Linked DNA regions of Homo sapiens. The protein of the gene in region 1 interacts with the protein of each later gene in a biochemical or structural test. Each region holds a gene or a part of one and is shown in the gene's direction. Other genes may lie near its edges.

What was found. Proteins that work in one complex are often made in the same cells at the same time.
Region 2: of the proteins of SRPK1 (region 1) and CACNB1, one has a biochemical effect on the other in vitro, tested with the Homo sapiens proteins (one large-scale study listed by BioGRID).
Region 3: of the proteins of SRPK1 (region 1) and AHCYL1, one has a biochemical effect on the other in vitro, tested with the Homo sapiens proteins (one large-scale study listed by BioGRID and IntAct).
Region 4: of the proteins of SRPK1 (region 1) and STAU1, one has a biochemical effect on the other in vitro, tested with the Homo sapiens proteins (one large-scale study listed by BioGRID and IntAct).

Annotation. Positions count from the first base shown.
Region 1 is NC_000006.12:35,886,369-35,890,098, reverse strand, and holds part of SRPK1 (SRSF protein kinase 1), read left to right. Parts: intron 1-1,175; coding exon 1,176-1,284; intron 1,285-1,987; coding exon 1,988-2,075; intron 2,076-3,287; coding exon 3,288-3,375; intron 3,376-3,730. UniProt on the Homo sapiens protein: Serine/arginine-rich protein-specific kinase which specifically phosphorylates its substrates at serine residues located in regions rich in arginine/serine dipeptides, known as RS domains and is involved in the phosphorylation of SR splicing factors and the regulation of splicing.
Region 2 is NC_000017.11:39,184,161-39,187,890, reverse strand, and holds part of CACNB1 (voltage-dependent L-type calcium channel subunit beta-1), read left to right. Parts: intron 1-289; coding exon 290-412; intron 413-961; coding exon 962-1,098; intron 1,099-1,318; coding exon 1,319-1,395; intron 1,396-1,786; coding exon of another isoform or gene 1,787-1,941; intron 1,942-2,740; coding exon 2,741-2,760; intron 2,761-3,026; coding exon 3,027-3,107; intron 3,108-3,507; coding exon 3,508-3,566; exon of another isoform or gene 3,567-3,658; intron 3,659-3,730. UniProt on the Homo sapiens protein: Regulatory subunit of L-type calcium channels. Regulates the activity of L-type calcium channels that contain CACNA1A as pore-forming subunit.
Region 3 is NC_000001.11:109,987,544-109,991,273, forward strand, and holds part of AHCYL1 (S-adenosylhomocysteine hydrolase-like protein 1), read left to right. Parts: intron 1-3,730. UniProt on the Homo sapiens protein: Multifaceted cellular regulator which coordinates several essential cellular functions including regulation of epithelial HCO3(-) and fluid secretion, mRNA processing and DNA replication.
Region 4 is NC_000020.11:49,178,326-49,182,055, reverse strand, and holds part of STAU1 (double-stranded RNA-binding protein Staufen homolog 1), read left to right. Parts: intron 1-2,811; exon of another isoform or gene 2,812-3,730. UniProt on the Homo sapiens protein: Binds double-stranded RNA (regardless of the sequence) and tubulin.

The DNA of each region.
Region 1 (3,730 bases):
CTCGCTCTGTCGCCCAGGCTGGAGTGCAGTTGGCGCGATCTCGGCTCACTGCAAGCTCTGCCTCCCGGGTTCATGCCATTCTCCTGCCTCAGCCTCCCGAGTAGCTGGGACTACAGGCGCCCGCCACCATACCCGGCTAATTTTTTGTATTTTTTTTTTTTTTTAGTAGACACAGGGTTTCACCGTGTTAGCCAGGATGGTCTCGATCTCCTGACCTTGTGATCCGTCTGCCTCAGCCTCCCAAAGTGCTGGGATTACAGGGGTGAGCCACCGCGCCTTGCCGTTTTTTGTTTTTTGTTTGTTTGTTTGTTTTTTGAGACAGAGTCTGGCTCTGTCATCCAGGCTGGAGTGCAGTGGCACAATCTCAGCTCACTGCAACCTCCACCTCCTGGGTTCAAGCGATTCTCCTGCCTCAGCCTCCCGAGTAGCTGGGACTACAGGCATGCACCATGACACTGGCCAATTTTTGTATTTTTAGTAGAGACTGGGTTTTACCATGTTGGCCAGTCTGGTTCTCAAACTCCTGACCTCAGGTGATCCACCCACCTCGGCCTCCCAAAGTGCTGGGATTACACGCGTGAGCCACCATGCCCAGCCTTAATTTTTGTATTTTTAATAGAGACAGGTTTCACTATGTTGGCCAGGCTGGTCTCGAACTCCTGACCTCAAATGATCCGCCCTCCTTGGCCTCCCAAAGTGCTGGGATTACAGGCATGAGCCACCGTGCCTGGGCTGTTTTGTTTTGTTTTTATTTAGAGAAAATCCCGTTTGCTTACTTGCTTTTTTTTTTTTGCTAAATAAACAGAATTATTCTGTCTCCTAAAAAACACCTGAGACTGTAATTGTAAATAGATATATATGTTTAGATAAACCTATTGAATTATTGAGAGACAAGAATATCATGATATACAACCTTTTTATTGTTTTTGGATGAGACTGTTGTAGGCTCAATCTAAATCATTAATCTTACTCACTTTTTTTAATAACATGAATTCAGTAATACTATGTGGCTGATTTGACTATTAAGATTTTCTTCTGTTGAATTGATTGTATAAAAGAAACTTTTTATTGATAAAAGGTATATAGATGTTGAAAAATGTGATGTTAAAAATGCCTTTTCTTACCATTGTTTCTCATCCTGGTTTTTCTGATTGTATTTCCCCTGTTTCTTCCAGGAGGTTATCATCTTGTGAAAATTGGAGATCTATTCAATGGGAGATACCATGTGATCCGAAAGTTAGGCTGGGGACACTTTTCAACAGTATGGTTATCATGGGATATTCAGTAAGTTTTAGTGGTTCTGTAAAAGAATTAGTTAGATGATGTCTAAATGTGTTTGTCTGAGTTTCCACTGCTGATCCAGGCTTCAATCTATCTCTAGCCTGATTCATTTATCAGAATTTTGTTGTTGGCAATAGTCTCTGTATTCTTGGAGAAACCACTTTTCTTTCGTGAAGAATCAGTATTATATATCTCCCTTTCTACTATAGAGACAGGAGTGATTAAATTAATGCTGGTAAAGCTTTTGTCGTTTGATTTTTTTGTGATTTTTATCATTTTCTTTTCACCGAAGTATTTCTTCTGGCTGCCTATGGGAAAATATTACAGCTTTTAACCTTTTAGTTTTTGCCTATATACAGATATATACACAGAACACTTGGAATTTGGTAATATCTTTCCCCTTATTTATCCTCATTTTGCAGTTTTGCTTGTAACTCAGGGAGATATTCAAAAGAAGGATTTTAACTCAGAGAAAATGTTCAACAACTGAGATTATCTGAGAACAGATTTTTTATTCTTCCTATAAATGAAATCTGGCCAGTTAGTGTCATTAACAAGTATAAATGTTCCCATAGAAGTAGCTTGTTTGGGCTACAGGGAAACGTGAAATCAATATTTGTCCTTTTTAACCATCTTATAGCTAAATCTTAGCTTCCTAAAGTAAGGGTAGGCTATGTAGTCTTAATTGCCTGTGTTTGTTTCTTAGGGGGAAGAAATTTGTGGCAATGAAAGTAGTTAAAAGTGCTGAACATTACACTGAAACAGCACTAGATGAAATCCGGTTGCTGAAGTCAGTGAGTATTAGATTATATGTATGAATGTGAAGAATTATAAATAAATCAAGTTTCATTGAATAAAAACACACCAAGTGGAGGCTCTTTAGCATGGATAATTTTCTCTATAAAGTTCTAGTAACCTTAAAGAGGTAAAGGAAGACAACAATATTTACACATACCATGCATGTAGTAGGGAACTGGTGGCAAATGCTATGATGAGAATTCTTCTTACACGCATGAACCAAAAAAAAACCTTTCAAATGAATAAAAATATTCACTGAGCATGTTTTACAGGCCAGGTAGCTACTGTCATAATGTTTTTTTTTCCTACTATGGTTAAAAGGAAAGTTGTGTAAATAAATGTATAGCATCTTTTTTGTTGTTTTTCAAATATGTTATAGAATACATAATATAAAAATACTGTATTTACTGATTCCATTTATACCTGGAAACTGAGATAAATTCTATCAAAAATGTATTTTTAGTTCTGTTTTAAATTAGGAATATGCCAGTGTGGTAGAAGGAACTTAAATTCAGAATTAGAAAACCTGGGTTTAGGTCGCCTTTACCCCGGTATGTCCTCCATGTTACCATTTTTTTCTTTCTGAGTCTCAGATTTTTTATTCATAAAGTGAGAATGTTGCACCAGGAGATTTCTATGGCAGTAGTTTTCTTTTTTATTTTCAACTCCTGGCCTCAAGTGATCTGCCTTAGCCTCCAGAGTAGCTGGGGTTACAGGCACAAGCCACTGCATCTGGCTTAAGACAGTACTTTTCAGAATGTCCGTTTGTGACAAGATAAGGAGCCTTGTACCTACCCAAAAGTAAATCAACATACTGTTTTCTTCATTGAGAAAGTTTTTCCATGAAAAAAAAAATGTCCGCTGAAAAAAACAGTGTGGTTAGTGCTGTAGTTGATTTGCATCCTGCAAAATCTTCTTAGTTCCTCATAGCCTGGTAATCATCAGTTAATTTGGAGGCCACACTTTGATTGATATCAGGGAGCAAAATAGTTTAATTAGAAAAATAGTTCCTGTTGGTTGTATTTCCTCTTATGAATTGACTATTTAAGATTTTTCTCCATTAAAGCTATTGAAATTTTAGTATATTTTAAAAATAGATTTATGTGAGCTCTTTCTTGTAGTTAATTTGCTGTAAGTATTCTTCCCCTACCATCTGGTTTATTTCCATGCTTTACCTTGTGCTAAACACTGTCTCTTCCCCACTACAGGTTCGCAATTCAGACCCTAATGATCCAAATAGAGAAATGGTTGTTCAACTACTAGATGACTTTAAAATATCAGGAGTTAATGGAACACGTATCCTTTTAAAAACCTATTTGAGAATAAATCATCCCAATCCCAAAGAAAGGAACTAGATTTGTTGTGTAGATGGCCTTGGTGTCTTTTCTAAGGCAAACTATAATAAAATTACCTCTTTTATTGTACACTTCTGAACACACATCTGAATTTTGTCTAATTTTGTGTGGTGTGATTTTTCAGAATATTGCTTTAAGCTTCTTGTCCTCTTTTCAGGCAAATTAAAGCGAAATCAAAGGAAACTTTTAGAAAATGCGTTGTATCACTAAGTAAAGAGTCTATGATTTTTGTCAGTTAGCACAGAAACTTTAAGGGAAGTAATTTCTTATGAAAAATACTGAGTAGGCCGGGCACG
Region 2 (3,730 bases), on another chromosome or scaffold:
TAGGCACCCACCACCACGCCTGGCTAATTTTGTATTTTTAGTAGAGACGGGGTTTCACCATGTTGTTCAGGCTGGTCTCGGACTCCTGACCTCAGATGATCCACGTACCTTGGCCTCCCAACGTGCTGGAAATACAGGTGTGAGCCACCACACCCTGCCCATGTCCATACACATTTCAAGGAACTATTATAAAGTAAACATCCAAGTAACCACCACTACTGTCAGGAAGTTGTACATTACATTGTGGTTTGCCCTCTAGTTGCCATCCTCCCCTGTGTGCCTCCTCTAGACCAAGCCAGTGGCATTTGCTGTGCGGACAAATGTTGGCTACAATCCGTCTCCAGGGGATGAGGTGCCTGTGCAGGGAGTGGCCATCACCTTCGAGCCCAAAGACTTCCTGCACATCAAGGAGGTGGGTATCTGGAGGGAGGGCAGGGAAGTGGGTGCCAGGAGACAGGCAGCCAGAGTGCTAGTGGACAAAAGGCTTCTGAGCCAAGCAGAGCCAGGCTGAATCTGCTGTGTGACCTTAGACAAATCTCTCCACCTCTCTGAGCCTCTTAATTTTCTACTGGAAAAATGAGGTGGTAATGCTTAGGTCAGAAGGTTGTTGGGAGGGTTTGTTAGGGGGCCTGAACTGGCATGGCGGTGTGCCAGGGACATGTAGGTATCCGCATTTACTCCAGCGGCCTTTGTAGAGTAGGGTGGGCACATGGGGAGAAGGACTCTCAGAATTGCATTGGGCCGGTGGCAGGGTGGTCCATGGCCAGAAAGCATGCTGGTCCTGGAGTTGTCCTGAGAATTGGCAGCTCCACTCAGAGGCTGGAGCCAGGGCTGGGGATTTTTGAGGGTGCCACCCCTGGGCTGGGAGGTGAGTCTGGGCGTTTCCCCTAGAGAGTGACTGCTAGCTTGCCCCTGCAGTTTCCCTCTTGCTCTTTCCACCCACCTGCCATATTCTTTGCAGAAATACAATAATGACTGGTGGATCGGGCGGCTGGTGAAGGAGGGCTGTGAGGTTGGCTTCATTCCCAGCCCCGTCAAACTGGACAGCCTTCGCCTGCTGCAGGAACAGAAGCTGCGCCAGAACCGCCTCGGCTCCAGGTGTCTGGGTGGGGCAGGGGAAGGGGATGCTGCCAACCCCAGGAGAGGCCATACAGCCTGGACTAGGCCTCAATGGTTGTCCCTGGCCCTGAGGGCACAGAGCTGCCTGTGGCATCACCAGTGGGGCTGGAGCACCTCCGGGGGTGCCGCATGTGAGAGGATGAGAGCCCCCCACGCCCACCTCTTTGCTCACAAGCTCGGTTTGCCTCTGCCCACACAGCAAATCAGGCGATAACTCCAGTTCCAGTCTGGGAGATGTGGTGACTGGCACCCGCCGCCCCACACCCCCTGCCAGTGGTAAGAGCCATCGCCATGCAGGGGTTTGGGAAGAAGCTCCTGGGTGGGGTGGTCTCCCCACTCCCTGAATCCTCCTTTCCCTGCAGTAGGAAACACCCCAATCCTGAGTCCCCCAAGCACATGCAGTGGTTCCCCCTCCATGAAGAGTAGGCTACCCCTCAAGCTGGGCCTGTCATGTCTCTCCTCTCCCTTTTCTTTGGTAGCTCCATCTCTCTGCCTGATTCCCCTGCCCTGCCCCCATTCATTTCTCCCAGCCCTGTTCCATTCACCTCTTCTTCTTTCTTTTTTCCCCATCCCCATCCCTGCGTTCTGTACTTGTGTCTCCACGTTCATCTCACTCCTTCTCCCCACCTCGCCTCCCTCCTCCCTCTCTCCTGACTCTCCGGTCCAGGTAATGAAATGACTAACTTAGCCTTTGAACTAGACCCCCTAGAGTTAGAGGAGGAAGAGGCTGAGCTTGGTGAGCAGAGTGGCTCTGCCAAGACTAGTGTTAGCAGTGTCACCACCCCGCCACCCCATGGCAAACGCATCCCCTTCTTTAAGAAGGTAATTCTCGCTGTGTTCTTGCAAGAGGTGGGGGAGTCAGGGCCAGCACTTTGGTGGAGGGAAGGGGGCTGTAATGGATTCAGATGTGGTACCAACCTGTTCTGTGGGCATCAGGGCTTCCTGCTGAGGTGGAGGGAAGGGTAGCATGGGCACATCCCCCTCCACACACAACTCCACCCTGGCCCGATCTCCAGGAAGGAGATCTTGCCCTTGGAAGGTTGCCCCCACACCTGGGGCAGCAGGGTTTGGTGGTCATGAACCCTGACCTCTCCCCTCACTCCCAGGGGCCTGCTCTGGTGTTGGTGTCTACCTTGGCATGTGAAGCAGGACATGGGATGGCATTCCTTCTTTGCCCTTTTTTGACTCTCTGGGTGGGCACATAGTGGGGGGGGGCTGCTGGCTGCAAAGCAAGACAGTTAAGGGAACCCCTAAAATGGGCATGTTGGCATGCACTGGGGGCAGGAGATGGGCAACAAGATAGGGGCTGTCACCCTCTCCAGCTCTTTTCCAAGACCCAGAAGAGGGTAGGATATGTCTGAATATTCCCACATCCACTGGACTGACTGTCAGTCCTGCTCCCAGCCCTGATCCAGGGCCACCTCTGGCTCCCCCTTGGCGTGGGGTCCCGTTCCCCGTCTCTGGCTCTGTCTGTCACTAACACGCATGCCCTGTTATCTCTCCTCGTCTGCCCGGCTCTCCCTCCCTCTCTTGTCCTGGCTCCTGCCTTGCCCTCTGCCCCTGCCTGGGTCCCCTTCCCTCTCTCCTCCCCCTTCCCTCTCTTGGCAATCTCTGGACCCAGCCAAACAGAAGCAGAAGTCGGTGAGTATCACAGCTTTCTGTGTCCTCCTCCCCACTCCCTGGGATGAGCTAGGGGGACCTTCTAACACCCATTCCCACATCTGTCCCCCATTTCCCCCACCCTTCCTGGTTCTCCCTGGCCATCCCTCCCCACCCCCACCCTGATCCCTACATCTGGGCTCTGGGACCAGGGTGGGGGAAGGCTGCATGGGGGAGCCTGGAGTCTGGGGGAGAGGATCTAATGTCATCTCCACTCTGGGGTTTCCCCTCCCTGCTTCCCCCCCCAGACAGAGCATGTGCCCCCCTATGACGTGGTGCCTTCCATGAGGCCCATCATCCTGGTGGGACCGTCGCTCAAGGGCTACGAGGTAGGACTTCCTAGAGGGGAGTGGATGCAGAGGGGCCTTAGAAAGATCTTCAGACCCCAGAGAGATCCCCTAGAAGGGCCCGATCCCAAGGCATCCTCCCAGGAGGGCTACAGACTTTCAGAGACAACCCCCAGGGGGCCCAATCCACAGAAAGACCCACTCAGAGGAGCCCCGTCCCCCAAAGAAACCCTCAGAAGAGCCCTCCCAGAGATGCCACTTACAGGGACCTTGGAACCAGAGACCCCAGTGGAGGCCCCTCAGACTCAGACCCCCGCCCGCCGTAAAGGCCTGTCCAGAAGAAAGTGGAACGTGAGGGTACAAATACCCAGCGACTCAGAGTCTGAGCGGCTTTAAATGCCTGCCTTCTCCTCCCTCCCTCCCCACAAACCCCCACCCCCAGGTTACAGACATGATGCAGAAAGCTTTATTTGACTTCTTGAAGCATCGGTTTGATGGCAGGTAAGATCCTGGGAGCTGCTCCTCGCACCTGCCGTTGCTCTCTGCTGCTGGGGATGGGCAGGATGCCTCGAATCACAATCCTGGGACTCGGACTGAGGAACAGAAGGCGGGCCTGGAACTGGGGAGTGGGCAGGGCATTCCAGCCCACCCTGACCCCTGACTCC
Region 3 (3,730 bases), on another chromosome or scaffold:
CCTCAGTTAGATCAGATCCCAGTGTCACTTTCTGGTCAGCTTTTATTCATTTTGTTTGCTTTGTTTGAGACAGAGTCAGCTTTTATTCATTTTGTTTGCTTTGTTTGAGATAGAGTGGATGTCCATCAATTAAAAGCATAAATATCTAGATTCTTCAGCTATAATCATGACTTACTCAGTTTTGTATGCCAAGGTCTATCACACTGCTATGAACAAAATAGGACTTGTTGGTTTGATTGAAGATTTGAGATGTCTGGGTGTCGAGAAGTCAACTAAAGGGATATGACCTTGAGCAAATTAATTAGCTTTTGTACCTGCATCTCCTCATCTGCCAAATAAGTGCCTATTTTTTTTGGAACAGGTGGAGATAGGGGCATGTTGGGGAGTTAAGATAGCAGTGTAATTTTTTAAAAGTCTATTCGTATATTTATATTCTTTCTTCAATGGGCATTTGAAGTGGCTTATAACACAGAACATATATGTGATATAAAAGGAAGTAAAAACTATAGAAAGAATGAAAAAAATATTGTTAACCTCGAGGGCTAAGATAGTTGATGAGGTTGATCACATGCAACTTGAAACTTTTAGCAGCCAGAGGATGAAAAGAATCATAGTTACAGTCTCCTTAGCAGGCATGGGAAATAATACATGTCAATTCCTCAAGGGGACGACTTTTCCTGACACAGAGTTCTAAAATAATTTTTCACGGGAATGTCTTAATAGCTGTAGTGTAATTCACATTGTAAGGCTTGTTCACGACTGTCACTGGTGATTTCAGATGGTATGGCTAGGAAAATTTGAGGTAAGAAAAGGAATCCTTGAGTTTTAAGAGTTAAGTGTACCACAACTGAAGAAGATCCTTGTTTAATGTTGGCAGTTATCGGTCAAACCAAGTAAGTAATCTAGTTCCCCATAACCACTGGTTATTTATCCCTCTTTTGCTGCTACTTTGTGTAACAGGAGTGGTAACTGTCCTTGGACCTTTGGAAATTGACACTGTGTCAAGTTGATTCTTTTTTCATAGTGTAAACCCAAATCTCCAACTTGTTGGAGAGCTCTTACAATAAGCATGTTTCTCCGGAAGGCCTTTCAGAACATTTGCTGTTCTCTGAACTTCTGAACATTAAAGGCACTCTCCAGAGTGATCCATTAAACATTTTGACCTAGGATCTGTGGAGTCAGACCCATCAGCAAAATGTGGGGAAGGAGAAGAGCACAGAAGAAACTACTTTTGTTTATAGGATATTCTTTATTTGAATGAAGCTATGTGCCACTAATTCATCAAAAGGGTCAGCTGAGACTTAGGAAGCACACCAAGTAGAGCCCCAATGGGTACAGCTTGGGTGTTAACCCGATAGGTAAAATCCAGGTTTCTCCTTTTGTCATCAGAGTTATCTTACGGTTAATTTTTGGTGCAGTTGTATAGAATTTACGCCAGGACTTGTCAGAATCACTGAAAGGAGATTTCATAGGTTGGCATTTCCTATCTTCACATCATTAGTATCTCTTGATTCTCCTTAGAGTGGCTGCTGTTGTAGTAGCAGTCTTTAAAACAGGAGTTGGGGTGTAAGAAGATCCTCTTTTTAAGATTTCTCCGCAGGTATTGATTACATCTCTTTTTCTTGTTTGGTTTAGTTAGTTACACTCTAGTTTCCAAATTACTTTGTTCCAAGTTTCTTTAGACATTTAGCTTGTAACAGAAATCTGTTAGAAGATTTCTAGATCAGTAGTTGTCTAGATCTTTTGCTGCCAAGGTTACAAATGTATACCTTTTCTTTTATCAGGAGTGTGTCATTTGGATCCAGAGTGTTTTACCCAATATAATATTCTTTTTTAAAATTTATTTTTATTTTTTATAGAGATGGGGAAATCCCTGTGTTGCCCAGGCTTGTCTTGAACTCCTGGGCTCAAGCGATCTTCCCACCTCAGCCTCCCGAAGTGCTGGGATTACAGGCAAGAGCCACCACGCCCACCCCAATATAGTATTCTTGGAAAGTTGTCTATAAAGGATATTTTGATACATGGAATCATGCAGGTCTTTAGTTGCCTGTGACTCCTAGCAAGTGTACTCTGCCACTCCGAGTAGTTAATGATCTGTAAATAAGCACTTTAATGCCCTCTTGGGGTTGTTTTAAAGGAACTGGCGAATAAAGGAGAATCATTTATACGTACCTGTTTCTCAAGTTTGGGAATGTGAGTATTGCATTTTTATAAAGAATGTCAACCCTGATTATACTGGATACATTTTATTATAATTTAGAACTGAATAGTAATTCAGAACACATGCTAATGAGGTGCGTCAGAAGCATTCCTGTCATGTGAAGGGCAACCTACGTGCATAGACCAGAATTTTTTCTAGCCTGAAATCTGAGAATCCCCAGTTGAAGACAAATTCTTACCACAAATTTTCCTTTTGATTATTGTCAATACTATCAGTGCCTATTGTGTAGTAAGCAGTTAATAAAAATTCACACAGAATTGCAGTTGCCTTTCCTTTTCTGATTCCATATTTTCCTTTGACTCACTCAAGTAGTTCTTTTGTCCCACTGTTGCTTGGCTGTTACATAAGACGCCTTTAACTTCCCGTTTCTGTTCCTAAAACTGTGAGTAGTAGTACAACATAAGGTAAGCACTGATTTTTGGAGTCAGTTTTACCTTTAGTCTCTACCATCTAATAGTTGTGGGACATTCAACAAGTGACGTCCTTTTCTCATCTGTAAAATGGGGAACAATGATAGTGCTATCTATATACATGGTTGAGAGGGTTAGCATTTAGTAAATAGTAATTAGTGGGGTTTTTTTGTACCTAGAGTGACCATATATCCTGGTTTGCCTGGCGCAATTCTGGTTTATACCTGTTATCCTAGCATGCAGTCCAAGGAGTGCCTCCGTAGCTCTGAAAGTTACCCTGGTTTATGTGGCCACCCTATTTATAACTCTCTGGATGATGCAACATGATAGTGCAAATGAGAGCCTAATTTTGAAATGTTAAAGAGCCAAAACAAAGAAGTTTCTATTGGAATGTCTTTTCAATAAGAAAATTTTTTTCTGACAAAAATGTTATTTTATATAGAGCTTACAGCTACTGAACCCCAAAACATTTTGTTAACTACAGGGGTGGGGTGTGTAGACAGAGATCTTAGAGCTTTTGATGGAGTTGAGATGTCCTCTACCTTACCATTCCCCATTCATCCCCCGTAATACATAATGCACTCATAGAATGTGGGTATTTGTCAGACACTGGGCCAGTCTCAGTCCAGGAGTTTATTTCCTTAAACTTCAGGTGTTTGGGGTTTTCCCAAACTAGAATCCTTGAATTACATGAAATAATTGCAAAGACTTCTGAACTGTGACTTTATCATTTTAGGTATGTACTCCAGCACCCCCGCCCCCATCCCTGCAGGTACTGTTTTCTCATTGCTCTTAACAGCCTGCTTCTAATTATGTATAACTGATTTTCTCCTGTAGAAATGTGTGGCCTTTGCTGCATGCCACTCATAGAACTAGAGTGGAGCATCCATGCCTTTGTTGAGAGACTCAGACTGCTTTCATTTTTGTTTCTATCTCTGTTTAATTTTTCTAAAGGATTTAGCCTGGTGCCTTAATCTCAGAATGTAGATAATGATGGATACTGCTTATCAGTATACATTGGGGGGCTTAATCATTCACTACCCAAATGGAACACAAAGTAAAAAGTTTAATGAACTATTGGTAAAAGGTAGTATTTGGA
Region 4 (3,730 bases), on another chromosome or scaffold:
AAATTAGTCTTCTGAATATCAAATCTGTAACCCATCTGGCATCTGTTTAATCTGGAATCTAATTTGGGAAAGAAGTGTGATGACTATGTGGGTTTATAACAGTAATGGAAGCAAAACTGGCCATTTTATTATGATAGAAATTTTGTGTCATGTCTCCCAGACAATAAAGGCTAAGAAAATCTATTTAAATACATTGGGGTCTTTTCCCCTGAATGAACATGATTGCTGAGGGTTAAACCTTCATTAGATTGCCTCTGCTTTTTTTTTTTTTTTTTTTTTTTTTTTTTTTGTTGAGATAGTCTTGCTCTGTTGCCCAGGCTGGAATGCAGAGGTATCATCTCGGCTCACTGCAACCTCCACCTCCTGGGTTCAAGCAATTCTCCTGCCTTAGCCTCCCGAGTAGCTGAGACTACAATTGAGCACCACCACGCCCGGCTAATTTTTTGTATTTTTAGCAGAGATGGGGTTTTGCCATGTTGCCTAGGCTGGTCTCGAACTCCTGAGCTCAGGCAATCCGCCTGCCTTAGCCTCGCAAAGTGATAGGATTACAGGCTTGAGCCACTGTTCCCGGCCTTGCCCCTATACTTGATGTAGCTACAGAACTGGTTGCTCAGTGAGTGGGTTGGTTTTAGTCAGCATATTCTCTGATCCTATTTAAAATTTTTTACAAGTGGAGTGTTGCTGTAAGTTTTATAGATGTTTATGTGTAAGGACAGGTTTAGTGAATTTGCTGGATAATAATATTTACTGCTATTGAGCTCTTACCATGTGCCAGGTTAGAATTACAGGGTGAAAGTTATTTTATGCAGAAAAGGAATTAAAAGGTCAGGTTGAATTTACCTAATAATATAAAAGTTGCAGTTCATTTAGCTCTTTCCTTGAACCAAAGAAAAGGGTTTCTTAGACCCTTTATGTTGTATTTCTAATACTCATAAACATCTTTGCAGCGTAAAGCTCATAATAATTGCTGAGGATGCTGATGCGCTTCCGAGGGGCCAGATAACTGGCTCAGAGTCCTGAGGCACCAAGTATTAGTTCTAGAGCACAGGCTGGTCTGGCTCCAAAGTCAGTGTTCTTTCCACTGAACCATGCTTTGTCTCTAAATTATGCTTAGGTGCTTTTTGTTTAGGATAATTGATTCTGCTTGTCACTGGTGGCCCTCCCCTGACTCTCCCCACCGCAGCAGCTAGGATGAATTTTGCTCATTAGAACCCTAGATCAATTTGAAAGAAAGTCTGGTTAAGTAATAGTCTTTTAGATGGACCCTTGAAATAGCTTTCCAGTTTACTTTTATTTGTTATGTCAAATTAAGCTAAAACTTAAAGCTGATCCACAGGTTTGTGTGTGGGGAGGGGCTGTCTTATTAACCTTTGTGTTAAAGGAGGCCAGCTCCTAAATTACTGCTATCGTGTGTCATCAGGTTTGTTAAAAATTGCTGGCATGGTGGCCCACGCCTGTAATTCCGTCACTTTGGGAGGCCAAGGCAGGCGCATCACCTGAGGTCAGGAGTTCGAGACCAGCCTGGCCAACATGGTGAAACCCCATCTCTACTAAAAATACAAAAATTAGCTGGGTGTGGTGGTACGTGCCTGTAATCCCAGCTACCCCGGGGGCTGAGGCAGGAGAATGGCTTGAACCCGGGAGGTGGAGTTTGCAGTGACCTGACATCGTGCCGCTGCACTTCAGCCTGGGCAACAGAGCAAGACTCTGTATCCAGGGGGGGAAAAAAAAAAAAAGAACTGTAGTCCAGGTTGTTGCTAAAAAAAAAAATTCATTTCTTCTGAATTCTAACATTCTGCTTTAGTGGAAATGAGTTAACTAAGCTTCCAATTAACTTTATAGGATAGGTGCTGGTTGTCCTCTTTGCTTCCTAGCCCTTTCTAACATCCCTCTTGTGGCTAATACTGTTGGGAGTATTTAGTACAGCTTCCTGTTTGGAATTGAACTGCTTCCTGAACAATTTTGTTTTACTTTTGTTTGAAACGGTGATCTGAATCAGAAGCTTCTTTGGTATTCCACCTGGGCAGTCTTCTCTTATGGTTAGTCTTGAAAGGCTGGATCAGTGAAATTAAATCTGCCTTTGGATGTGAGCTTTTAGTGAAATGGTGTCTGAAGTTCCATTTTGTGTTTAACCTCAACTGAGGCTACCCTGTAGTCTGTAATGACATAGCATGTCTCATTAATCACTAATAGGTGTTGGAAATACCCCTTGGCATGAAGTGAGCAGATAATGCTGCTTACATTGTCACTATATTAGCTCCCTTCAGAGATGAGCTTTAGGATCTAACTAGATCTTGTCTGATTCTCTCCTATCTTTGCTGTTTTGAAATCCATGCCTTCTATAGATTACAATTAACTGAGGCATGAATTTTCTACCCTTGCAGATTCCACCCTGATTCAAATAGGGCCATTGTCTGCTGAAGCCATTGTGATTTTATGCAGAATGCTAGGCAGTCCTTTCCTCTGTCAGAAAGAACAATTTATATGTAATAATAAGTCTCATTATGCTTGGAAGCTTATTTTCCTTGTTGCACAATTGAACCAACCTGCTCATGAAAGCTCCATGACCCTTTACCTAGATGACAGTCAAATATAGTTAGGCAAATAAGTTTCCTTTTGGTTTGTCATTGAGTAAACCTTTGCAACCTGTAATGTTTAGCAAGTGACTACTTCTGTATAGTAATTTTCCTTTTAGTTGAGAATTTATTCAAGCACCAAACATAAAAAAGAATAAAAGTGAAATAAGCTTTCTTTTGCATAAGGGACTTTCTATAATTTGCTACTTTTTATCTTCTTTTTTTTTTTTTTGAGGTGGAGTTTTGCTCTTGTCGCCCAGGCTGGAGTGCAGTGGCGTGATCTCGGCTCACTGCAACCTCCACCTCCCAGGTTCAAGCGATTTTCCCACTTCAGCCTCCCGATAAGCTGAGATTACAGGTGCGTACCACCATGCCTGGCTAATTTTTTTTTTTTTTTTTTAGATGGAGTCTTGCTCTATCGCCCAGGCTGGAGTGCAGTGGCGCGATCTTGACTCACTGCAAGCTCTGCCTCCCGGGTTCACGCCATTGTCCTGCCTCAGCCTCTGGAGTAGCTGGGACTACAGGTGCCCGCCACCATGCCCAGCTAGTTGTTTTTTTTTTTTTTTTTTTAGTGGAGACGGTGTTTCACCGTGTTAGCCAGGATGATTTTGATCTCCTGACCTTGTGATCCACTCGCCTTGGCCTCCCAAAGTGCTGGGATTACAGGCGTGAGCCACCGCGCCCGGCCATGCCTGGCTAATTTTTATATTTTTATTTTATTTTATTTTTGAAGCAGAGTCTCGCTCTGTTACTCAGGCTGGAGTGCAGTGACCCAATCTCAGTTCACTGCAACCTCTGCCTCCCGGGTTCAAGTGATTGTTCAGCCTCAGCCTCCCAAGTAGCTGGGATTACAGGCATGTGCCACCATGCCAGACTAATTTTTTTTTATTTTTAGTAGAGACAGTGTTTCACCATGTTAGCCAGGCTGATCTTGAACTCCTGATCTCAGGTGATCCACCTGCCTTGGCCTCCCAAAGTGTTGGGATTACAGGTGTGAGTCACTGCGCCGGCCTAATTTTTGTATTTTTAGTAGAGATGGGATTTCACCATGTTGGCCAGCCTAGCCTCAAACTCCTGACTTCAGGTGATTGGCCCACCTTGGCCTCCCAAAGTGCTGGGATTACAGGCCTGAGCCACGGTGCCTGGTTTAGTAT